Homo sapiens: one gene and its partners. The protein of the gene in region 4 interacts with the protein of the main gene of each other region in a pairwise test. Each region holds a gene or a part of one and is shown on either strand. Other genes may lie near its edges. The genes, in order: MCM6, MTCL2, ZNF250 and FAM161A.

The links.
Region 1: the proteins of FAM161A (region 4) and MCM6 interact in binary tests that used the Homo sapiens proteins (3 or more experiments, as listed by UniProt).
Region 2: the proteins of FAM161A (region 4) and MTCL2 interact in binary tests that used the Homo sapiens proteins (3 or more experiments, as listed by UniProt).
Region 3: the proteins of FAM161A (region 4) and ZNF250 interact in binary tests that used the Homo sapiens proteins (3 or more experiments, as listed by UniProt).

The regions. Positions count from the first base shown.
Region 1 is NC_000002.12:135,839,097-135,845,446, forward strand, and holds the end of MCM6 (DNA replication licensing factor MCM6), read right to left. Parts: intron 5,589-6,350; coding exon 5,449-5,588; intron 1,856-5,448; coding exon 1,739-1,855; 3' UTR 530-1,738; downstream 1-529. UniProt on the Homo sapiens protein: Acts as a component of the MCM2-7 complex (MCM complex) which is the replicative helicase essential for 'once per cell cycle' DNA replication initiation and elongation in eukaryotic cells.
Region 2 is NC_000020.11:36,790,508-36,797,539, forward strand, and holds part of MTCL2 (microtubule cross-linking factor 2), read right to left. Parts: coding exon 6,995-7,032; intron 6,446-6,994; coding exon 6,375-6,445; intron 4,093-6,374; coding exon 2,742-4,092; intron 1-2,741. UniProt on the Homo sapiens protein: Microtubule-associated factor that enables integration of the centrosomal and Golgi-associated microtubules on the Golgi membrane, supporting directional migration. Preferentially acts on the perinuclear microtubules accumulated around the Golgi.
Region 3 is NC_000008.11:144,891,427-144,898,458, forward strand, and holds part of ZNF250 (zinc finger protein 250), read right to left. Parts: intron 3,807-7,032; exon of another isoform or gene 3,717-3,806; intron 1-3,716. UniProt on the Homo sapiens protein: May be involved in transcriptional regulation.
Region 4 is NC_000002.12:61,824,325-61,830,069, forward strand, and holds the end of FAM161A (protein FAM161A), read right to left. Parts: intron 2,935-5,745; coding exon 2,780-2,934; intron 2,276-2,779; coding exon 2,131-2,275; 3' UTR 524-2,130; downstream 1-523. UniProt on the Homo sapiens protein: Involved in ciliogenesis.

The DNA of each region.
Region 1 (6,350 bases), about 74 Mb from region 4:
TTCCCATCTTTTAATTTGGTTTATAGTGTCTGTTTTTTTTTAATAGACTCCCATGACTTTCCATAGACTGTAGAGGGTGAAGCCTGGGAATCTTTTTTTGTTGTTGTTGTTGCCGCCCAAGCTGGAGGGCAGTGGCATGATCTCAGCTCACTGCAACTTCCACCTCTTGGGTTCAAGCAATTCTCCTGCCTCAACCTCCTGAGTAGCTGGGATTACAGGTGCCCACCACCATGCCTGGCTAATTTTTGTACTTTTAGTAGAGACAGGTTTTCTCCACGTTGGCCAGGCTTGTCTCGAACTCCTGACCTCAGGTGATCTACTCACCTTGGCCTCCCAAAGTGCTGGGATTACAGGCGTGAGCCACCGTGCCTAGCCTTTTTTTTTCTTAAGTGAAAGCAAGGCTATTAGGAAAGTAAAGGAATAAAAAATGGTTACTACGTCAGCAGAGCAGCCTAGTCTTTAAAGATACATTACCTGATACCAGTCTTCTTATAAAAATCCCATGACAAATCTACTTGAGTATTCACTCTTGTTTTTAATGTTTGCCATTTATTTTTAAAATACTTAATTGTACATACTTGTGGAGTACATTTTGACAAGGTTTCATACAAGTTGATTCCAGGGAAAGAGATAATTATTGGGAGAAACATATTTAAATCATTGTTTTAACCTATATTAATCTGTCTTGCTTTCTACTAATAGATTTCTGGCTGCTCAAATTCACATTGCACTGGAAAGCTCAGACATCAAGGCAAGTTGAGTACTCATGGGTATTAGACTGTCCCACGTGGGCCTTAGCCTCAGACAGTTATTTTGCTTTTGTGACCTTTAACATACTTTGTGATTTAATGAATGCCATCTGTTGTTAAAAGCTGCAACACAGGAACTGCTCCACCTCATGAACATACTGATCATAGCTAAGTCTCAGGAACTGTTAGTATCATAAACGGTAATAACTTTTCCTGGAAGACCATAAAATTTGGGGATTGCTTGTAATATAGCAAATGACCTATTTCCCCTAAAAAAGCAATTTGAAAACAATCCTGAGAAATTACCCTTAGGACACAGAAGTAAAATAAATTACTAAAGAGTAATTTTAAAAAAGTATAATAAACTTTTATAAACTTAAAAAAAAAAAAAAACAACTGGAATTAACCTTGGAAAGTCATCTCTAAGGCCTCTAGCTTTCATATGAGTTCTCTAATGACTCCTTCTCATAGAAACCTCATCCATAATACCACAGTTCTACCTCTTCACTCCAGGTTAAGCAAAAAGGGAAAGTCTCACATTCAGAAGTAGATGGAAGTAATAATCAGGGTACAGTAGAAAGAAATCCAATAGACAACTTCAGAACAAGTTATTTTATTTTGATGAATAAAAGCAGTAGCTGGCAATTGAAAAAAAGTTATTTGCTCAATAGGACAGCACATACCTTAAAAGTAATGGGCCTTTTCTTACACATGAAAACAAAGGTATTGGTTATAGAGACTACACATTATTTGGTTCCAACTTCACTGGGACAGGAAACACACCAAAGGAAGTGCTGAAGCCTGTGTTGGTATGAAACCTGTGATGAATGTGACACATAGGACCATCAACTCAATTCTTGTTTCTGAAAACAAATCCTGGAAGCATCACTTCCAGAAACACTTCTGTCCCTAGCAGAGCTCCAGCCAGGCTCCAGGCCACGAGGTGCTGTGCCACAGTTCCTCAGCTCTGGTCAGTTACTTTCACTATCTCAATCTTCGAGCAAGTAGTTAGGGTTAACTACCAAGTAGGGATCTTCTTCATAGCTCTCACTTCCCTCTGTGGAGCCTTTCAATCCAGCCTGGGTGAGCTCAATTAGAACATGATCCTGTGAAACACAAATATTTGTCCTCAGGTTTCAAGCAGTATTATACCAATGTCCAGATATACAAGACTTGACCCTTCTTCCGAGTGTTTGCTATCAACATTTTCTTTCATTTCCCAACTAGAAACTCCTAGGAAAAGGACCACACTTTAAAAATCACTATCAGTGCTCTGCTAAACCCTGTTCCTAGTAGGATGCTGACCTTTTCATACCATAAACCCCTTGTGGAAAATTAAGAAATACTTAAATATATTACATCAAATGCTTGTAAATACAACTTCAAAAAAGGAAGTAATGCTTGAATTTTAAGGTTAAACAACTCTGCAAAATCTTCTAATTAATTGGAAGTCTGTTTCATACTTAATATCATTCAGCAATTTTTAATTATGACCACTGAACTTTTTCATATACCACCATTTCATAGAGTTAGGAGAAGAATCTATGAAAATTCATCTGAAAAATTTTTCACTCTGAGCTAATAAAAAAAAAGGTAGAACATGCCATCTGGCTTAAAATCTTGATGACAGATTTTAAGCCCACGATATAATTACAGGTTAGTCAAAACTGTCCACAAATGAGAAGAGCTCCTAGCCAAGCCCATAGAAAGGAACTCAGGAAACTGTGATTTGATCCTAAGAAGTCTGGCAAGGCTCCACAGTATAAACACTGAAGCCACTAAGGGGGACTGGACACTTTTTAAAAAATTGCCCTTTCAAATCTACCCCTGAAGTTAGATTGGACACTTTCAAGCACTCACTCTATGTGTTAACATACCTTCATAGGAAGCATCATATCTCATCAGCACAGTATAAGCTCTCTAGTTTTCTGTAGCAAATTAGTTCAGGTGGTAAGCCAAATTTTAAAAGGTAATCCAGGCTGAGCGCAGTAGCTCATGCCTGTAATCCCAGCACTTTGGGAGGCTGAGGTGGGTGGATCACCTGAGGTCAGGAGTTTGAGACCAGCCTGGCCAACATGGTGAAACACCATCTCTACTAAAAATACAAAAATTAGCTGGGAGTGGTGGCGGGCACCTGTAATCCCAGCTACTCTGGAGGCTGAGATAAGAGAATCATTTAAACCCAGAAGGCGGAAGTTGCGGCGAGCTGAGATCATGCTACTGCACTCCAGTCTGGGCAACAGAGCAAGACTCTCTCAAAAGATAAATAAATAAATAAATAAATAAATAGGTAATTCAAGTTTAGATCAGTTAGCTTCACAGTGTGTTCCAAAGTCCTGAAGCAGATTCCTTGCCTGGGTCGTTTTACTTTACACTGATCCCAAGGAGCACACAGACATGTCCCACCACTAGAAAAGCAACTCTGGACCCTGATCTGAGTAGCTGTTCTTACACCTCCCTACCCCTCAATAATCACAGACTGATCTACCTTCACAGGAAAACGGTTTTTGAGAAGACACAACCCCAATACATGACCTCTGTAATATTTATATAGTGAGCCCTGTGAATTGGCACGACAGTTAAATCTCTGCCACATAATAGGAAAATTTAACCATTCAACATATATTTGATCCTGCTATGTGCCAGGTACCACTGTAGCTCCGGGGCAAAGTCTCTACCCTCACAGAGCTTATATTCCATAAGAGAGACAAACTAACCACTTAAATAAAGAATATACTGCTGGGCCATGTTAAACATTACGAAGAAATACAAGGCAGGGTGACAGCAAGAGCAGAAGGCTACTATTTTGGCAGGCTAGCAAGAAAGGTTTCTTTGAAGAGGTAACATTTGAGCAGACATTGGAGAGGAGGAGGATATCTAGGGAAATGGACAAAGGGTGAGTGCAAAGGCCCTCATATTTGGTGTGCCTAGGGATCAAGGCCAGTGTCACTGGGGTGAAATGGGTATGGGGAAGACTGCTGTGAAATTAGGTGAATGAGGGGACAGGGGTTACACTGTATAATAGTTCTGCAGGCCATGACAAGGAGGCTGAATTTCCTTCTAATGTGAGAGAAGCACTGGAAGGGAGGGTAGTAAAATAATCTGATTTATATTTTAAAAAGACTTATCTGGCTGCTGAGCAAGAAGCCAATACAAAAAAAGGACAATTTTATGAGGCTTCTGCAACAGTCCATGCCTGGTGGCTTGGGTGGGCTGGTGAAGGCGGTAAAAAGAGAAAAGAAAATATACACACACTGAAGCTGGGGGTCAGAGGATTTGCTGCTGAAGAGGAGCTGTGAGGGGAGAGTGGAATCAAGGAGTCAAAGACAATTCCAAGGCATTTGGCCTATAGCAATTGAGTAAGAACAACTCAACTGCAAACAGGGAAGAACAACTCTGTTTTTGAACACATTAAGCACGAGATGCCTGTTAAACGCTCATCAGTAGGCAACCAGCTCTATACATCTGGAGTTTACAGGAGTGGTGAGAGCTGGTGACATAAATGTGGAAGTCATCAGTAGATGGATAAATTCATAAAACCAAATGAGATCACTTAGGTAATGAATGTAAACTATCTGAGAGTAAAGTAAGAAGAGAAAGATTCAGGCCAGGCACGGTGGCTCACGCCTGTAATCCCAGCAGTTTGGGAGGCCAAAGTGAGCGTATCGCCTGAGGTTAGGAGTTCTAGATCAGCCTGGCCAACATGGCAAAACCCCATCTCTACTAAAAAAAAAAAATTAAAAAATTAGCCGGGCGTGGTGGCCGGCGCCTGTAATCCTACTTGGGAGGCTGAGACAGGAGAATCGCTTGAACCCAGGAGGTGGAAGCTGCAGTGAGCTATGCCACTGCACTCCAGCATGGGCAACAAGAGCGAAACTCTGTCTCAAAAAAAAAAAAAAAAAACAAAACCATTCAGGGAAAGAGACTAAGAGGGAATAACCAGTGAGAAAGAAGCCCCAGGAGGATACAGTGACTCAGAACCAAGTGAGGAAGACACTATTTGTAGGAGTGATCAACTGTGACAAAGCTGTGGACAGGCTGAGTACTGAGAATGGCCAGCTGACAGGAGTGGAGAGAAGGTATGTGATGGGCCTGTGAGAGAGTGAGGCAAAGAACTGACCCGGGAAAAGGAATTGCACTGGGCAGTGCTGTCATGAGGTTGATGAGACAGTAAGAACTGTCCACTTGAGATTTCTGGTCATCGATTTAAATAAGACTGGGCTCATAATTATATGCTTTTCTCCAGATACTTTCAGCTGCTTAGATAAGGATACAAAAAAAAAAAAAAGTTATATTTAACCAAGTTTGGGGTTTCGCCAAGCAAGTAAGATGGAAGATTGACTATTGGGTTGGGTAAGGTGGGAACTAAGAATGTGAGGAAAATGAAACATAGAAAGTAGGTGACAGCAGTACGACCAAGGGCAAATATGAGGATGGGAAACAGAAGCTTAAAACACCTAACTAGTAAGACTTCAATCCCACCTTCTGAGATTTAACCTAAATTCTGCTTGTTTCAGCAGAGGAAATAAGTCATTTACCTGCTGTTCATTCTCTCTTATTTTACAACTCATACTTCTGACTACACTCCAATGATTCAAAACAAACAAAGGTCAAAAAAAATTTCACTAGTGAACCTGCAGATACAGGGCATGAACTCCCTCCCTCCCTGATACCAGAGCACGCGCACTTCTGCACCTACATAGTGTGTGAGTCGATGAATAACTTTCTCTATGATTCTTTTTTTATTTATAAGTTCTTCTTCAGAGTCTATCTCTGATTCGATTTCCTTCAAGTACCAGTTAACAAGCTCGCTCCTCTTTAATGCTGACTCGTCCTCTTCTGCAACAAAAAAACACATTCAAATTATCCTAGCAACTCGTACTGTCAGTCCTTGGGTAAATCTCTGCCACATATACAACGAGATAATGTACAGATTAGATAAATGTCAAGCCGTCCGAAAGTACATCTGGTGACGTAAGGTCCGCAATGTTCTAGCATAAGCCTGAAATAACAAGTCATATCACTTGTATTAAAGCATGCCTTATTTTATCCATAAGGAGAGAAACCTAATAAAATAGATTATAAGAAATATGTTTCTTAAAGCTATTAAGATTTCAAAGTATGAAGGTCTTTTCTTCATCTTCTTATGCTTCACCACCTCTGAGAATGCTTGCCAACAGAAACTAAAAGCATAAATTAGGAATGAAGCAACAGCAAGCAAAAATTCTGAAATATAACAACTTTTCCTCTGTAGAAAGGGGAAGGCTTTATGGAACTGGAGTTTACTAAGAAGTAAAATTCATGAGTATTCACTCAAAATAAAAAATTACCTGTTTATTTTAGCAAGGTTCATCTTACTAAGTGAACTGCCTGCTGCTTTTAACAAGTCCAAGGTCTACCAGACTTTTAGAAAGTCCTGGTAAGAACCCTCAACACATAGGAAATGTTTGGACCTGGATAACATAACTATCATAAAACTCAACTTCTGCTGTGTTTAAAACTTACTTGTATGAGGGAGAAAGAGAATAATGACATATAACATGAATCAAGAACACCTTGAGTTCCCAAATCATTTTGTGTGAGACGCGAATGAGGACAAAA
Region 2 (7,032 bases), on a different chromosome or scaffold from region 4:
TGTTGCAACCTCCACCTCCCGGCTTCAAGCAATTCTCCTGCCTCAGCCTCCCGAGTAGCTGGGACTATAGGCGCATGCTGCCACGCCTGGCTAATTTTTTGTATTTTTTAGTAGAGATGGGGTTTCACTGTGTTGCCCAGGCTGGTCTTAAATTCCTGAGCTCAGGCAATCCACCTGCCTCGGCCTCCCAAAGTGCTAGGATTACAGGCGTAAGCCACCATGCCTGGCCTCTTTTTTTTTTTTTTTAATGTAGAGATGAGCTCTCACCATGTTGCTCAGACTGGTCTTGAACTCCTAGCTCAAGTGATCTGCCCACCTCAGTCTCCCAAAGTGCTGGGATTAGAGACATGAGCCATTGCACCTGGCCAAAAAAGGAATAAATATTTAAAAGATGTTTTTAAATGTCAGCCAGCTGAGTGAGAGTATAGAAAAGTAACGCACTCGCCACACACTGCTGGAAGCTGTAGATATGGCACACTTTTGAAAAACAATTTGGCAGTATTTATCAAATAACTTTAAAACATTTATATTTTTTTTTTTGTGTGGAGATGGAGTCTCACTCTGTCACCCAGGCTGGAGTGCAGTGGTACCATCTCAGCTCACTGCAGCCTCCGCCTCCTGGGTTCACGCGATTCTCCTGCCTCAGCCTCCTGAGTAGCTAGGACTACAGGTGACCACCACTATGCCCGGCTAATTTTTGTATTTTTAGTACAGACAGGGTTTCACCATATTGGCCAGGCTGATCTCAAACTCCTGACCTTGTGATCCACCCGCCTCGGCCTCCCAAAGTGCTGGGATTACAGGCATGAGCCACCGCGCCCGGCCACATTTATATTCTATTATCCTTTAATCTCATTTCTGCAACTTATACCTAAGGAAATAGTCTGAAATGTAAAAAAATGATTTTGCACCAAGATGTTCACCACAGCATTATTTGCAGTAGGGACAAACTAGAAACCACCTAAACGTACAATAATAGAAAAGTAGAATGTTTGAGTCTATCACAGCCCATTCCACACACAGCCCTTCTCATGTCTCTGTGCCCCACAGCAGACCACATGGTACCACTCCCAGCCATAGACTGGACCAAGGGGTACACTCGCCTCTAGCTGCACCAATCAGAGTTTCCTTCTTTCAGAAATGTGGAATTGGGAGACAGGGATTTGTGTCAGTCTCTCCTAGGGGCTTGAACTGGAAGATGTTGTAAAGTCAGAGCTGGGACAGCCCACCCAGTCCTTGTGCAAATGCAACAGAGAGAGAAACAGAGAAAAAGGAGGAATATGATATCAGAGAGGGTGAAGCTTAAAGAGAGGAGAGGAAGACAGGGAGAAGCTGCTGAGGTTGTCAGGTTCCTACTCTTGGGTTTTATAAAACATGCCATCCTTCAAATACATTTCCTTCCCTTTCTGCAAAGTTAACTTATGCACATTCTAACACATTCAAATAATGCTCACTAACATTCAAATAAGGTTTACTAATTAACTTATAAGAAACTGATAGCAGGAGTGGGGTGTGAAAGATTCTCAGAGGAAATGTGAGCACTTAGGTGTGAAGTCTTGATGGGGTGGAGAAGTGGTATGCCCGCTAATGTTTAACAATTAGTTTTCCAGGAGTGATAGGAGGAGCCCCGATTTGTAGTGTTTACCAATTTTTATGCTGTAAATCCTCCCACTGTGGCCAATCTCAAGGTACCAAGGTGATGTTAAACACAGAGATGTGGCCAGGCGCGGTGGCTCACGCCTGTAATCCTAACACTTTGGGAGGCCAAGGTGGGCGGATCACTTGAGGTCGGGAGTTCGAGACCAGCCTGGCCAACATGGTGAAACCCCGTCTCTACTAAAAAATACAAAAATTAGCCGGGCATGGTGGCAGGTGCCTTAATCCCAGCTACTTGGGAGGCAGAGACAGAATTGTTTGAACCCAGGAGGCGGAGGTTACAGTGAGCCGAGATTGAGTCATTGCACTCAAGCCTGGGGGACAAGAACGAGACTTCTCTCAAAACAAAAACAAAAACAATAAAAAAAAAAAAACCCACAGAGATGCTGACAATTGGCTCCTGCAAGCCAAACAAGCTGGCTCTAGCACACCACTGGGTGGCAGGAGAGCAGTAAGGCCCCTTCCCTGGAGGGGATGCTGGCAGTCTCTGGTGGGTGGAGCAAAAGCTGCTAGTTAAGCCATGCTCACTAGTCTCTTGGAATTCAGACCATGTGACCATCAGGTCTGTGTTGTTCCAGGTCTGGGACCTTCCAACTCTATCCTAGACCAGCATAAGAACTTCCTGGAACACATGGCCATATCCCTGAATTTTTATTTTATATATATAGATATATAGATAGATAGATAGATAGATAGACAGACAGACAGACAGACAGACAGACAGACAGACAGACAGATAGATAATTTTTTTTTTTTGGTGAGACGGAGTCTTAGTCTGTCACCCAGGCTGGAGTGCAATAGCACAATTTCAGCTCACTGCAACTTCCGCCTACTGGGTTCAAGTGATTCTCCTACCTCAGCCTCCAGAGCAGCTGGGACAACAGGTGCATGCCACCACGCCTGGCCAATTTTTGTATTTTTAGTAGAGATGGGGTTTCACCATGTTGGCCAGACTGGTCTTGAACTCCTGATCTCAGGCGATCCACCCACCTCGGCCCATATCTCTGAACTTAAAAACCAAAAGAGCTTGGACCTTATATACTAACTCCACCTACTAAGAGAAAGGACAGATCCCACCCACCTACCTCATTGGGAAGGACCACGGCTCCATCTCCGTCCCGGAGGACACCATCCTTCCCCACCTGGGGGAGCATGGTGAGTCTGACCTCCTCACTGCTGCCCAACTTGGCTGCCTTCTTGTTCAGGATCCTGGCCACACCCTCTGGCTGATGGTAGCTGGCTGGGGAGAGGGGCTCTGGCTTCTTGGTGCCCTCCTCTCCTGCTGATGAGGTGGGGCTCGGTGCCCGGCCACACACATTACGGAAGAATTCCTGCACAATGCCGTACTTGGGAGGCTCGGGCTTGGCCCGCGTCTCAGACATGCCTAGTTTCCAGACAGACTCCGTGCTCCCTGAGTGCTCCACCACACTGAAGAGGCTGGAGAGTCCATCGTTGATGTTTCTCAATACAGGGCTGTCCCGCGTGGTGGTGGAGCGGGCCCAGGCCGAGCCGTTCTGCTTGCCCTGGTGCAGGTTCCACAGGCTGCGGTCCTTGCTGCTGTCCAGCTTGGACACAGACCGCCTCTGGAGCTTTGGTGAGCCATACTTGGGGGAGCAGCAGGGCCGCTCGATGCGCGAATGGACCTTGTCCAGGGAGGAGGAGATCTGCTTGCTGCGCACAGACACGAGCGAAGAGCTGCGGGGTGACCAGGCCTTGCCATGGAGGCTGCTGCGGGGTGGGTCGGTCTGCAGGCCCACGCTGACCGTGCGGATGGTCTGTGTGCCCACACTGGCCAGGCCCACCGTCTGGCTGGATGTGCTCTTCACTTTCCTCTCCAGTGAGCCGGAGCGCATGGCCTGGCGCACACAGTTGGTGATCTCCTTCATGTCATCACTCATGTTGCCTGACATCTCAAAGTCATGCAGGGCCGCTGGGAAGCCAGGCCCGGCCGCCGAGGGGCTGCCCGCTGAGCCTCCGTCCAGGCGCTGCCGTGAGAAGTTGCAGAGCCACCGACCATAGGAGCTCTCAGCCAGCCCATCAGCCTCGGCCGACTCTTTGGGCTTGGCTGTGGTGAAGAGGAAGCCGGGCTCGATAATGATCTTGCCCTCTTTGTCATGAACCACAGGGACTCCGAGGCGCCGGGCCACCGGGGGACTATAGTAGACTCGGATGCCCGTCTTGTCAGGAGCCGTGTAGCTGCGCTGCATCTGCCTCCCTGGGGGGTCCTGGCAGGCCAGGGCACCCAGGTGGTTGCAGTCCCTCGACGAGAGCCCAGGCTTCTCCTTGGTGTCTTTCTCTGGATCCCCTGGCTCGGAGCTCACAAAGCCAAAGGCAGGGTTGTTAGGCAGCTTCTTGCCCCGGGCATCTCCGCCAGCAAGGTAAGGGGAACAGTCGAGCAAACTTTCAAACTCAGACATGGAAGAAACAGATTTGGTTCTGCGAAGGACAGAGGAGGAAACGTCGTTATTAGTGGAAATAACACTGAGGGCACACTCTGGTCTACCACCCTGGTCCGTGTGCTGCGTGAGGGCAAAGACCAGGACCGTCTTGTTCACCTCTTGTAGAGATGTTGTTGGTGCCCAGTCCCACATTCTGTCTGCATTTTCTTTTTTTTTTTTTTCTCCCAAACAGGTCTTGATATGTCACCCAGGCTGGAATGCAGTAGTGCAATAATAGCTCACTGCAGCCTCAAACTCCTGGGCTCAAGTGATCCTCCCATTTCAGCCTCCAGAGTAGCTGGGACTACAGGTGTGCACCACCAAACCTGGCTTTTTTTTTTCTTTTTTTTTTCTTGAGACAGAGTCTTGTTCTGTCACCCAGGCTGGAGTGCAGTGGCATGATCTCGGCTCACTACAACTTCCACCCTCCAGGTTCAAGAGATTCTCCTGTCTCAGCATCCGGAGCAGATGAAATTACAGGCGTGCGCCACCACGCCCAGCTAATTTTTGTATTTTTAGTAGAGACGGGGTTTCACCATGTTGGCCAGGCTGGTCTGGAACTCCTGACCTCAGGTGATCCACCCGCCTCAGCCTCCCAAAGTGCTGGGATTACAGATGTGAGCCACTGTGCCCAGCCTAACACCTGGCTAATTTTTAAAAAATTTTTTGTAGAGATGGGGATCTCCCTATGTTGCCCAGGCTGGTCTCAAACTTCTGGCCTCAAGAGATCTTCCTGCCTCTGCCTCTCAAAATGCTGGGATTAGAGGCATGAGCCACTGCACCTGGCCTCTCTTTGCACTTTCACCTATACACCTAAAACTGCATACTCTGAACTGCATACTCCACCATTCTCTATCTGATGGTTTTTTTTTCTGCCTGTGGGATCATACTTGGCTGTCCTACACATAGAAGAAGCTAGACCCAGCACTTTGGGATGCTGAGGCAGGCAGATCACCTGAGGTCAGGAGTTTGAGACTAGCCTGACCAAGATGGTAAAACCCTATCTCTTAGTAAAAATACAAAAATTAGCCAAGCGTGGTGGCGTTAGCCTGTAACCCCAGCTACTCAGGAGGCTGAGGCAGGAGAATTGCTTGAACCTGGGAGGTGGAGGTTGCAGTAAACTAAGATTGTGCCATTGCACTCCACCCTGGGAGACAGAGCAAAACTCTGCCTCAAAAAAAAAACAAAAACAAAAAAAACAAAACACACGCCCAAACCGAAGCTAGAGATAGCACAGAGTTAATGAGTTCACACCCCTAAACACAGCCCTCAACAAACAATAGGTGGGATATGGTGAACAAGTGCCCCAGCCTCCTTGTGGTGGGATGACTCTAAGCTGCATGTTCTCCTCTGGCTCCCTGAGTTCCTCCGACAGCCTGAACTCCAGTTGCCCGTGGAATAACCTGGTTGAAGCTCCTTTTATCGGCTGCTTTCCCTTCCCTGTCTCACTTCCAAGTGTTTCCTGAAATTCTGTCCCAAATAAACCATTTGCACTTAAATCTTTGTCTCAGGGTTTGCTTATGGGGGAACCCAAACTAAGACGCCATGAAGCTCCTGGCACACCTATTGCCTGAATCACTGAACACACCAGGCATATGGAAATGCACGTGTCAGACCACTCTGATTAACTTCAAGAGGCAGCTCCTATCATCCCCACTAGACAGAGATGGGAAGTACTGCTCAAGGTCAAGGTCATAGAGCTAGAACTGGCAGGGCTGGCATTCAAACCTGGCCCTCTGGCTCCACAGCCTGTCCCGCCTGCCTTGCTTCTGGGCTGGTCTGATAGCGGCTGGGGGTTCTGTTTCCCTGACTCCTTTCATGGGTTTCCTAACAGTGGAGACGTGGTCCTTATGGTCTTGGGGTGGGGGTCTCCTTGGCCATAGCACAGGGCTGGGCCCAAAGGATGCTGCTCAATAATCCCAGGAATAGAGGTCAATCTTGACTCTCCTAACTCCAGAGGCAGGAGAAAAGAATCCCAAGAGGAGCAAAATGTTTTGTTTCCACCTGTGTTCCATTCCCGGACTCAAACAACATGCAGCAGCCTGGAATTCCCACTGCCCCAAGCCTTCCAGCTCCTGAGTGGCTCGGGTTCCAGAGAAACCATATCCCGATGCTCTCCCAACTTGGATGCGGTGGGGTGGCGGCAGGAAGAGGGCAAAGGGGCGGGGCAGGGCTGCGGTGAAAGCAGGTAGAGTGGGTGCAGGGCGCAGCAGGAGGTGGAGAGGGGCGAGGCTGTGGGGCCGGTCAGAGAGGCAGAGCAGGGGACCAGCATGCAAGCACCTCTTTAAACCATTTCCTCCAAGCTCAACTTCGGAAACAGCCTCCTTGTCGTGGATCTTCTCACTGCGTGTCTGTCAAGGAAGAGAGACAGGAAGGGTCAGTTCTGGCCACCAGAGCACTAAGGGCATGGAACAAGAGACCAGCCCCGACCTCAGTGCTTGAATCTCCTCATCCGGAGAGCAGGAATGATGTCATCAATGATCTAGCATGGTCAGTTTCTGGCTGCCCTGCATCCAACTCCCCCACCATATGTGATCCAGGCTGGGCCAATCAGAGCTCCAAGAGTGACCCACCCAAGGAAAGGGACCACTTAAAATTTAATCCAAATGTGGTGACTGCAACAAAGCATCCAGTGGTCCACTGCTCAGCTGGTGGTGGGCTTGTCTTCTTCCTCCTCAACCCTACCCCCTCACTTAGCCCAGTCCCTGGGTGGTTGGGTTTTTTTTTTATTTTTTTGAGGCAGGAACCATGAGATACAGACTCCAGGGCTGAGGAGCCCAAGGTGCAAGGGTGTGACCTATGAGACAGGGTTAGCAACTTCCTCTCATGTCCCCCACAAGCAGGGACCTTTATGGTGCAGCCAGGAGCCAAGATAGCATGGCAGCAGCCGCCCCACTCACCTCCTTCCAGCTGTTGTCCTGCTTCTCCAGCTCCGAGT
Region 3 (7,032 bases), on a different chromosome or scaffold from region 4:
CAGATATAGGTGGGCGCGGTGGCTCATACCTGTAATCTCAGCACTTTGGGAGGGTGAGGCAGGCACATCACCGGAGGTCAGGAGTTTGAGACCAGCCTGGCCAACATGGTGAAACCCCGTCTCTACTAAAAATACAAAAATCAGGCCGGGTGCAGTGGCTTATGCCTGTAATCCCAGCACTTTGGGAGGCCGAGGCAGGCGGATCACCCGAGGTTGGGAGTTCGAGACCAGCCATGACCAACATGGGGAAACCCCGTCTCTACTAAAAACACAAAATTAGCCGGGTGTGGTGGTGCACGCCTGTAGTCCCAGCTACTCAGGAGGCTGAGGCAAGAGAATTGCTTGAACTCAGGAGGTGGAGGATGCGATGAGCCGAGATCATGCCATTGCACTCCAGCCTGGGCAACCAAGAGCAAAACTCCATCTCAAAACAAAAACAAAAACAAAAATCAGCTGGGTGTGGTGGCGGGTGCCTGTAATCCCAACTACTCAGGAGGCTAAGGCAGGAGAATCACTTGAACCCAGGATGTGGAGGTTGCAGTGAGCTGAGATCATCTCAGCTGAGACTCTGTCTCAAAACAAAACAAAAAAAACACACATCAGATACATGTATATATTTGCACAGACAACTTTCAGGAAGATACACAATAAACTAACTGCCTGCCTCTGAAGAACAGGACAGGGAAACACAGTTGGAGAGAGACTGACTTTCAACCCTCCCCCGTGCTGCTGTTCTCCAAAAATGCCCATTCCCTCCAAATGTGTGTGTGAGCACACTTCTGTGTTAGCGCAATGCAACTCTAATTAGAATTCCAACAGAAGTCTTTTAAAGGAATGACTACAACTACTTGAGAATTCATAAGAAGAATGGATGCTAGAGAATAGCCAAGAATTTAACTGGAAAGAACAGAGGGTGGGGACTGCCTTGCCAGGAATCAGAGCCAAGGGTGGGTAGGAAGCCGCTGCAATTAAACCAACAAGTTGTTGACAGAGGAACAGATGAAGCCAGACAGGTATGTGGGAAATTGGAAGATAACAAAAATGTTACATTTTAGTTCAGCAGGAAATCAGTGGTTCCTTTAGTAACTTGTGTGTACCCAGATGGGATACATCAATAACCAATTTTTTTGTTTGTTTTTTTTTTTGAGACAGAGTTTCACTCTTGTTGCCCAGGCTGGAATGCAACGGCGAGATCTCGGCTCACCGCAACCTCCACCTCCTGGGTTCAAGTGATTCTCCTGTCTCAGCCTCCCAAGTAGCTGGGATTACAGGCATGCGCCACCATGCCCAGCTAATTTTTTTTGTATTTTTAGTAGGGACAGGGTTTCTCCATGTTGGTCAGGCTGGTCTTGAACTCCCGACCTCAGGTGATCCGCCCGCCTTGGCCTCCCAAAGTGCTGGGATTACAGGCGTGAGCCACCGTGTCCAGCCACCAATTTTTTTTTTTTTTTGAGACGAAGTCTTGCTCTGTCACCCAGGCTGGGATGCAATGGGGTGATCTTGGCTCACCGCAACCCCTGCCTCCCAGGTTCAAGCAATTCTCCTGCCTCAGCCTCCCGAGTAGCTGGGATTACAAGCACCCACCAGCACGCTCGGCTAATTTTTTAAATATTTTTAGTAGAGATGGGTTTTCACCATCTTGGTCAGGCTGGTCTCGAACTCCCGACCTCAGGTGATCCACCCGCCTTGGCCTCCCAAAGTGCTGGGATTACAGGCATGAGCCACCACGCCCAGCCCAACAATAACCAATTTTGGATTAAGATGAAGACCAAGTGTGAGCATTAACAGTGGCCTCATGTGCTCCTGGTCCCCCTGTCTGACATCTGCCTACCCTCAAGGGCAGAAGTGCCTTCTCTCCTGCCACACCCTGACCCTTTCCATGGGTCACCCACCAGCGCACAGATCTGCCATTTCTTTATTTTGAAACAGAATCTCGCTCTGTCACCCAGGCTGGAGTGCAGTGGCATGATCTAGGCTCACTGCAACCTCCGTCTCCCAGGCTCAAGCGATCCTCCTACCTTAGCCTCCTGAGTAGCTGGGACTACAGACACCTGCCTCCATGCCCGGCTAATTTTTGTACTTTTTGTAGGTACGGGGTTTCACCATGTTGCCCAGGCTGGTCTCGAACCCCTGAGCTCAAGTGATATGCCCCTCTTGGCCTCCTAGAGTGCTGGAATTACAGGCTTGAGTCACTGCGCCTAGCCCTGCATGCGAATTTGACCTTGGGTGAATGCACAGCTCTGGTCCCCTGGAAACCTGGCAGAGGTGGATGGTCATTCTCTCTACGGACCAATCACACCTGGGCTGTGACTCAATGATGAACAACCACAGGAAGTACATTCAGGGCCTCCCTAGCAGGTCTTGCAGCCAGTTCTCTTGACACAGGAGGTGCTGGCTTGTATGACCACGAGGCTTTCGACTAGGCTAACTCCTCCTCCTACCTGCATCTTGTGTTTATGCACCTCAGTACTCCCTGGATGGCTGCTGGATGATGCTGGCCAGCTTTTCCGAGAAGCTGCTGCTAGGCATGGTTGTCCTGTGAGTCTGAAAAGTCAGTTGAGCCCAGTAGCTCTTTTGGTACACTTGAGCTCGTGATCCCCCTTCCCTCTGACTCAACCTTTCAATATGGGTGTCTCATAGCATCTCAGACATTTAACATCCCAAACCAAGCACCCCCTCTACCATCATTTCTACCCCCAGCTTGGTCTGTGAGCCTGTGCATCAGCCTCCTTCCTTCTTCACTCCCACACTTCTATTCACCTTCCAAGCACATCCAGAACCTGACCATGTTGCCCATCTCGCCCTCCCTGCCCCATGACAACCACCCCTAGATGTTCGGCAGCTCCCATCTGGGCAGACAGACTCCCAGCACCGTCTGTCTGCCCAGCCCCTCCATCTACCTTCCTGTGAGAACACAGTGACTGTCCTCTGCTCCAAGGTCCTCCCAGGACCCCACTGGCTCCTATGGGCATGCCCCAAACTTTGTGATTTTCCTCAGAGCCCTGCAGCCCTTTATCCCTTGGCCTGTGCTCCCCATCCAACTCTTAGAGACCTCTGCCCCACCCACCGCAGCAGCCCTGGCCTCACCCAGCTCTCATCCTATCCCTTTCTCCTGCACCAGCAGACCAAGAAGCAGGCCCAACAGAGTAATCAGTGGTCGACCTTTTTTTTTTTTTTTTAATTACTTCTAGGCTAATGATTACAAATTGCCAGGCAATGTACTTTTTTAAACTTTTAATTAATTTCTTAGAGACGGGGTCTCACTTTGTAGTCCAGGCTGGAGTACAGTGGCTCAATCACAGCTCAATGCAGCCTCCAACTCCTGGGCTCAGGTGATCCTCCCACTTCAGCATCCCAAGTAGCTAGGAATACAGGTTGCACCACCATGCCTGGATAATTTCTTAATTTTTTTTTTTTGGTAGAGACGAGGTCTTGCTGTGTTGCCCAGACTGGTCTTGAACTCCTAGGCTCAAGGGATCCTCCCTCCTTGGCCTCCGAAAGTGTCAAGATTACAGGCCTGAGAACACCACACCCGGCCTGTTTGTTGAATAAATGAATGAAGAGGAATGAGCTCACACTTTATGCCATCTGTAATAGCCAAGTACGGAGTCAACACTTTAAACTGGCAGGCATGGGAAAGTGGAGTTTCTCATACTCTTAAGAAGGCGACCTAGCAGTATTTAGGCAAATCAGACTGGCCCTTGGATAGTGGGTACCTGATAAGAATGGATGTGGGTGAGGGTGCAGATTCAAGGATGTTGCTGAGGCAAATGCTACGTTGGTCCTTCCACATACAAGTTACACACCTGCTAAAGAGAAAGATGTATGTTGTGTCAGGTCACCAGATGGGTGAGTGAAAATGCAGCATGGGGCCAGCATGCAGGGGAAAATCTCATTTTGTAAACTATGACCCCGAGCCCATGAAGGGTATGTGTGTCACAAGGACCTGGGACTGGTTCACCTGCCTCACTTGGGCCAGCTGCATTGAGGCCCCACCTATAAATCCAGATGACACACTCCTCTGAAGGCCTGGAGATCATGTGGTTGGTGAGAGGAGAGCGCTAAGAACAGGCTTGGCTCAGAGGAGGATGCTGCTGGATAAGGTGTTATTATCTATTTGATTAACACACAGAGGAAATACTCCAAAGGACAATACCAGGCTGTCAACAAGTGTGTGGCAAGGAGAAGTGAAAGGGAAAGACTGCCACCTGGGGTGAGTCTTAGAAAAGCATCACACAAAATGCAGTATCAGGTCTCTATTGAAAGATGACCATCACATATTGCTAATTAAAAAAAAAATCGGCCAGGCGCAGTGGCTCATACCTGTAATCCCAGCACTTTGGGAGGCCGAGGCGGGCGGATCAAAAGGTCAGGAGTTCGAGACCAGCCTGGCCAACATAGTGAAACCCCGTCTCTACTAAAAATACAAAAAGTTAGTCAGGCATGGTGGCAGGCACCTGTAATCCCAGCTACTCAGGAGGCTGAGGCAAGAAAATAGCTTGAACCTGGGAGACAGAGGTTGCAGTGAGCCAAGATTGTGCCACTGCACTCCAGCCTGCATAACAGAGCAAGACTCTGTCTCAAAAAAAAAAAAAAAAAAAAAATCCTATCACAAAGTCTGATTGTATTCTGGTAATAAATGAACAAAAATGGCTGGGCATGGTGACTCACACCTATAATCCCAGTACTTTGGGAGGCCAAGGTGGGAGAATTGCTTGAGTTCAGGAGTTCAAGAACACCCTGGACAATATAGTGAGACCCCGTCTCTATAAAAAAATTTAAAAAATTAGCTGGTTTGTAGACCTAGGTACTCTGGAGGCTGAGATGGGAAGATTGCTTGAGCCCAGGAGGTCAAGGCTGCAGTAAGCTGTAACTGCACCACTACACTCCACCCTGGGCAACAGAATGAATCCCTGTCTCAAAATAAATAAATAAATAAATAAAAATTAAAAAAAAATATGAACAAAATACATTTTAAAAGTGGTATTAACTAGTTTAAATTTTTTCCTTACTTACACTATGGCAGATAAAGGTTTCAGTTTCCTGGAACGAGCCTGTAACAGGATACCAGGCCAGGCAAACACCATGGACCTCAACCTAAACCTTGCATACTCAAGACAGGAAAATGTAAGAGCTATCGGGGGTGCCAGAAACTGGCTTTTAACAACACACTCCATCCACACTTCACGGGATTCTGACGTCCAACTCCAAGCTTTGCTCCATGAGAACACAGTTCAGGCAGGGAAGGAGGATGATGTGGACAGTTTTAAAAAATTAAGACAGGCTAATGACGAGTCCTCTATAGATGCCAGGCTCCAGGGCCAGGGGCTGGGACAGGCTGGAGATCACCGCCACAGAATACTGGAAGTGGAGTTTGAGGAGCCCCCTCTTGAGGCCATGCCAACAGCTAACAAATGGGCAATATAAAGAACACCCACTCAGGGCACTGGCTGAGCAATGATCCCTCCCACCCACTGGTTACAAAGGTGGCAGCATAAGGAGCTAATTTTTCAAACTCAGGAATTTCAATCTTGAAAATTTCCCTAAGGAATAATCCAAAACAAAAACAATAGATCAACGTTATTAGCAGCAACTGGCTTTCCAGTTTTCTTTAGGTGATCAAAAGCCACATCGCAGTGAGACATTCCTATCACTCTTTTTGGAATTCCTGACTGTCTTGATGTGACAAAGCAGTGTGCCTGTCATTCCAGAGGACCCTGCACATGGTCACACACTGGGACAGGCACATTTGGAGTCTCCTGATCTGGGATGAGCTTCCAGGATCTCCTCCAGGGCCACTGCCTTCTCCTGCTCCTCATCATCCTCACTCCCTGGACTTTCTGCTAACAAGCACTGCTCCCTCTTCATCACCAAGGAGCCCCTACCCGCTAGGGTGAAAGCACTTTCAAGAGAGGCAGCTTCTGAGCCACTTGTGAGCACAAGGCGAAACACTGCTAAACTTGACCTAATCTAAACTAACCCTAACTAACCTAAACTAACCCTAACCTGCAACCTTTCCAGAATTAATGATCAGAAATATGTATCCAAATTGATAGCTTTCTGGTCGGGCACAGTGGCTCATGCCTGTAATCCCAGCACTTTGGGAGGCCAAGGTGGGTGGATCACCTGAGGTCAGGTGCTGAGACCAGCTCGGTCGGGGAGACCCTAACCCAGCGGCGCTAGAGGAATTAAAGACACACACACAGAAATATAGAGGTGTGAAGTGGGAAATCAGGGGTCTCACAGCCTTCAGAGCTGAGAGCCCTGAACAGAGATTTACCCACGTATTTATTAACAGCAAGCCAGTCATTAGCATTGTTTCTATAGATATTAATTTAACTAAAAGTATCCCTTATGGGAAACGAAGGGATGGGCCGAATTAAAGGAATAGGTTGGGCTAGTTAACTGTAGCAGGAGCATGTCCTTAAGGCACAGATCGCTCATGCTATTGTTTGTGGCTTAAGAATGCCTTTAAGGGGTTTTCCACCCTGGGCCGGCCAGGTGTTCCTTGCCCTCATTCCGGTAAACCCACAACCACAACCTTCCAGCGTGGGCATTATGGCCATCATGAACATTTCACGGTGCTACAGAGATTTTGTTTATGGCCGGTTTTGGGGCCAGTTTATAGCCAGATTTTGGGGGGGCCTGATCCCAACAGTCAGGAGTTCAAGACCAGCCTGGGTGACATGGTGAAACCCCGTCTCTTCTAAAAATACAAAAATTAGCTGGGTGTGGTGGCACGTGCCTGTAATTCCAGCTCCTCCCAAGGCTGAGGCATGAGAATTGCTTGAACCTGGGAGGTGGAGTTTGCAGTGAGCCAAGATCGCGCCATTGCACTCCAGCCTGGGCAACAGAGTGAGACTCCATCTCAAAAGAAAAAAAGCAAATAAACAAACAAACAAAACAAAACAAAACAAAACAAAACAAAAAAACAACCAAACTGATAGCTTTCTTATATACCAGTAACACCTAATCAGAAAATATGAATGGAAAAAAATCTATTCAACAAATAGCAACAAGAAACAAGATTAA
Region 4 (5,745 bases):
ATTTGAAACTGTCAGTGTCTCTCTCCCTCTTTTTTTAACTTTGGTTCTGTGTTAACCAGATCATGTCTAACAAAGTGCTTCAAAAGTTATTTCTAACCAAATAATATTTAAATCACAGTGTATCTCATTTAAGTACAAGTATTTTAAGTTAACAGTTTCCTCAGGAATATTCTGTCTTCTGACACCATCATTTGAATATCACAGTTTGCAAAGACCTTTCCATATATGATTTCATCCAGTCCTTCCTACAGCCACTCAAGATAGGTAATATTCCCATTTTTTTTTTAAAGGTAAGAAAACAAGATTGGTCCTGAAGCCAAGTGTTTCATGACCAAAGCCCACACTCTCCTCATGAAATTGAGAAGGGACAGGCTGTGGAGTGAATCCTTGAAAGCAAGTAATGTTTTAAGTACTATTACAATTTGTAGATTGTGTTTCACAGGCTCCCAATGAGCTAGGAGGGAAATGTTTTTAATCCCATGTGTACTCATTCTGAAGTAGCTGTAAGTATATAAAAACCATATTCATCTACACACTCATTCAAACCTTTATTAAGTACCTACCATATGTACAATACTGTTCCAAATATTAAGGGAATACAAAGATGAATTTTTAAATGGTGCCAAATCCCAAGGAGTTTACAATATAATAATAGTAAAAAGTAATTTAACACGAACTGTAGGAAGAAAATTACAAGTAAACATTTGCCCCTGATGGAGAAAAATGACCTTATTTTTAAATTTAAAGCATAAATTGCCAGTTTGGAAACACTGCTATTACATACACCTGTATTAGTTCATCCTTTTAAAATGATGCTGATTGTTTTTAGAAAAGAAAATGTCTTATGCTATATTATCTTTATGATTGGCTTCAAATTTTAAAACAAAAATTTGCTTAAAGAAAAAAATATAGATTTATAAAATCAGATTAACACTGTACACAGAGAGATAAAGTGTGTTGGCAATAATATGTAAAAAGTTGAACACAACTGGGTCTAGCAGTGAAGAGTTAAATCTGAATTACTTTGGAGACTTGCCCTAGCCAAGTTATTATGCACAATTTCATCATATAAAAAAAGGGATACTTGCCCCTAATTTAGATTATAACTCACACATGCCATAATTACTTCCATCTGTAATAATACATAGGGTTAAAAAAACTAGTATAAAAACTTTCCTAATAATTTACAAATCAAAAATAATTTGGACTAGAACTAAGGATAAAAAGAAAAAGGGATGATGGTGTAGACAATTTAACAGTAAACTCTCAGTGCAAAAATAAATGTAAATTTGCAAGTATCCATTTTTTTCTATACTTTTTTTTTTTTTTTGGAGACGGAGTCTCGCTCTGTTGCCCAAGCTGGAGTGCAGTGGCGCGATCTCGGCTCACTGCAAGCTCTGCCTCCTGGGTTCATGCCATTCTCCTGCCTCTGCCTCCCAAGTAGCTGGGACTACAGGCGCCCACCACCACGCCTGGCTAATTTTTTGTATTTTTAGTAGAGACGGGGTTTCATCGTGTTAGCCAGGATGGTCTCGATCTCCTGACCTCGTGATCCACCCGTCTCGGCCTCCCAAAATGCTGGGATTACAGGCATGAGCCACCATACCCGGCGTTTTTTCTATACTTTTAAAAATGGCTCAGAGCAGCAAAACAAGTTAGAGGATTTATTCTGTGAAATGCACTGCAGAGAAAAAGAATGGGCAAATAGTATAATTAAAAATAGTTATTGATTCACACTTTCCAAAATTTTTAAAAAGTAAACCACCAAAGACCAATACTTCTCTCTCCTTTCAATACTAAGCCATTTTTTCCAGTAAAATTAATGAAATAATGTATATTTTTATAACTAATCAGTTTGTGACAGCTGTGGTTCTCACTTTTTAAAAATACAAAATCATAGTTGCAAACAGATAATACACAATGATTTTTAAAACTGAATAGGCAAAGCCTTACTCTAACTGATCAAATGACCAATCAGCTGGATTCAGGCTTTTCAGGCTACAGATGACTTTGATCAACAGCCCTGCACATATCAGAAGCGTCCCCACAGATGTTCTAAACACAAATGCGGCTGCTGACACCCTGACGCTGCAAACAACAGCAAGGGCATAGAGAGGAGACCTTGATGATTCAGTGTGATTCTTCAACAGATTTCTCTTCTTCACTTTCCTCATTGGCTTCATCTTTTTCCTTGTAAGAATCCTGGCTGTTGGTATCAATAAAATAATTTTCTTCCCCATTCTCTCTTTCTTCTATTTTTTCTTCTTCATTAAAGCTAGGGGAAGAAATTTATCAATCTTTCAAAGGAAAAATGAGTTGGTTTAAAGGTAAACAAACCCTCTGCAAGTATGCCACCGTGTAGCCAGTCTTCCTCAAGTGTATGAATTCCAATTTGTTACCAAGACAACTCAAAAAAAAGAAGAAAACGCTATAAAAGTGCCCATTGAGAAATTTAATATTCCTGAAAACTAATTTATTTCAAAATTTGAGTGATTGTTTCTTTAAACTTCATTTGAAAGCATGCTATTATTTTTGTTACTTATGTCTTTAAGAAATCTGTTATTCTGCTTTAAAAATAAAATACTTCATGTGAACGTTAATGTGTCAAACATGTTAAAATATCAGTGTGTTTTACAACAGTTCATATGTCTTTTACTATTGGGTAAAAGATCTTTTTAAAACAATATAGAACAAAAAATATACATAGTATAAAATTGTGCTTTTCTGCAGGTAATAATTTTTTCAAAGGTAAGCCATTCAGACATCTTATATATGTTACCTTTCTTTGTCTTCAGTGACACTTTTCGTCTCTTGATTGTTGAAGTACTCAAGTACTTTTCCACTTTGGCCTTTCTTTGAAACAAACTCATCAGATATTCCTAGTGCTTTTAGGGTATTAGAATAATGCTTTTCTGCTGCCATTCTTGCATTTTTCTATAGGAAAGACAAACCTTTTTAGACGAGAACAGAAGACTTTAAATTTTCATCAAAAATGTATAGATTAGGCCAGGCGCGGTGGCTCACGCCTGTAATCCCAGTGCTTTGGGAGGCCGAGACGGGTGGATCACGAGGTCAGGAGATCAAGACCATCCTGGCTAACACGGTGAAACCCCGTCTCTACTAAAAATACAAAAAATTAGCCGGGCGTGGTGGTGGCCGCCTGTAGTCCCAGCTACTCGGGAGGCTGAGGCAGGAGAATGGCGTGAACCTGGGAGGCGGAGCTTGCAGTGAGCCGAGATCGCGCCACTGTACTCCAGCCTGGGTGACAGAACAAGACTCTGTCTCAAAAAAAAAAAAAAAAAAAATATGGATTAAAAGTACTGGTGATAATTAAGTTCAGCAGTCACAGTTGTTTGAAAATCTGCATACCCTATGACCAACAATTACACTCCTAGGAATATAACCAGAGAAGCTCCCACATATGAGTCCCAAGGGAGGACATGTTCAAGAATGTTCAGGATAGTACTGTCCTTCAATAACCCCAAATGGGAAATCACCCAAATATCTATTAGTAGCAGAATGGATAAATAAATTGTGGTCTATTCCTATAATGGAGTGAAACAAAGCAAGGAAAATGAATGAACTACAGTTACATGCCACAACATGGATAGATCTCACAAATATAATACTGAGCAAAAGAAGCAAAGCACTGACAAGTACATATTGTATGATCTATATAAAGTTCAGAAATGGGCAAAACAACTATATTGTTTGAGGATAGGTACACACACTGTAAAATTGCAAAGAAAAACAAGGAAGTACTTATCCTGAAAGTTAGAATGGTGGTTACCTCTTGGGGAGAGGTAGAGGGCTGTGATCTGCAATGGCACATAGGGTTTTTGGGGTGCTGGCAATGGTCTATTTGTTAACATGGGTGGTGGCCACATTAGATTGATCTATAATTATTTTTTATATTGTACCTAGGTTTTATATACTTTTATGACTGTATAAAGATATCTGAAAAAAAAAAAAAGATTTCATGCAATAATTGTTGTCAGAGGATTCTTTTTCCTTTTTTTTTTGAAAAAGGGTCTTGCTCTGTCACCCAGGCTGGAGTGCAGTGGTGCAAACACAACTCACTGCAGCCTCAACCTGCTGGGCTCAAGCGATCCTCCCACCTCAGCCTCTGGAGTAGCTGGGACCATAGGCGCGTGCCACCATGCCCAGCTAATTTTTGTATTTTTTGTAGGACGGGGCGTCACTATGTTGTCCAGGATGGCCTTGAATTCCTGGGTTTAAGTGATCCACCGGCCTTGGCCTCCCAAAGTGCTGGGATTACAGGCATGAGCCATGGCACCCAGCCAATTTCTTTTATTTTATGTATCTACTGTAATTTTTACTCTTTATAAGCCATATCCCCAATCCATTAAAGATGATAAAAGCACCAGTGTTGTAATCTTTACTCTGTGGAGGAAGCAAGGGATATAACAAAAAGAATATGAATTTAGAACTGGGTTCAAATCTGTAGAATGTCACTTCCCGGCTTTAAGATCTGTTGGAATTGTGATGACCCTCTCATCACAGCTCCAGAGATGGCAGGCTTTATGGAGCCACATAGTGACTGGGTTCACACTAGTGCCTCCACTTTAGCCCATTTTAGCTCCCATGAGTGGATCTGAACTGTTAGAGGGCCAAGAATTGCCCTCTGGACCTCCAACTAAAGCTAAGACCTCCAAGTAAAGCAAGCATTCCTAATACTAGGAATGGCCCAGTTCCAATGTACCAATGGCATTCATACTGGGAAGGGTGTGGAGGAGTACCCAGTCTAACCCCCATATTTAATAAAGAAACCAAGTCTCCCCCGGCCCCCGCCTCAAAGGTGAAATTGACTAAGGTCACAAGGCTAGTGAGTGGTAGAACCAAGTCTCTTGACCATTTCCTAGGTCTTTTATATTACATCATGCTACTTTCTCTAAGTGGTAGTGGTCGTCAAGAGTTTGAAGGTGACCTAAAGCCTGACTTGAGCAACGTAGTTGTCAGATATTTGCCAAATCTAGTATAATGAGGGGCCATGGAGTCTAGTGTTACACAGGAGAACCTGAAATAGCAAGGACTGATTACAATAGATAAAACTATCACCAGGGCATTTCCTGATACTCTGGAAAACTGAAAAAGAAACACTGCTGCTAAAACGCACTCACTGTGAATAACAATAATATTTTTTAGAAAAGTAAGTAAAAACCCATCCAGAGTCTGTGAATATCAAAAGACAAGTCTTGGGGAGCTGAAAGGAAGGGCAAAATGAGAAATAAGAACTATACCCTAAAGACTGCAGAGAAGAATAAAGAAACCCCAAACCTAGCTCTGAATGCATTACCAACAGTATATTCTGACTTCAGCAAATTAAATATATAAGACATTAAAAAGACATTAGTCAAAATTTGTGCCAGTAAGCCTTCATCTGACTTTGGTTTAAAATTCAATTTAACATCTTCTCAGTTAATTAATCCTGTGATTTCCAAGAAACAGGACAACATAGTTTATTCTGTAAAGAATCACAGGCATATTGTGTTAGGGAATCACTCAGCAGCAGCGAGACCACAATTAACTCCTATAAATGGGCAAAGCAAATAGCTGCAAGCAAATTTATTAAAAACCAGCTGTTAATTAGCAGCAATAGTTCCAGCAAAATAGACTGCAGCAAAAAATGTACTAAAAAAAAAAAGCAATGGCGATTCACTGCCATGGTAACTCTGTTTATACTTTTTGAGAAGTTAATGAGAAGACCCCTTGATATCATTCATT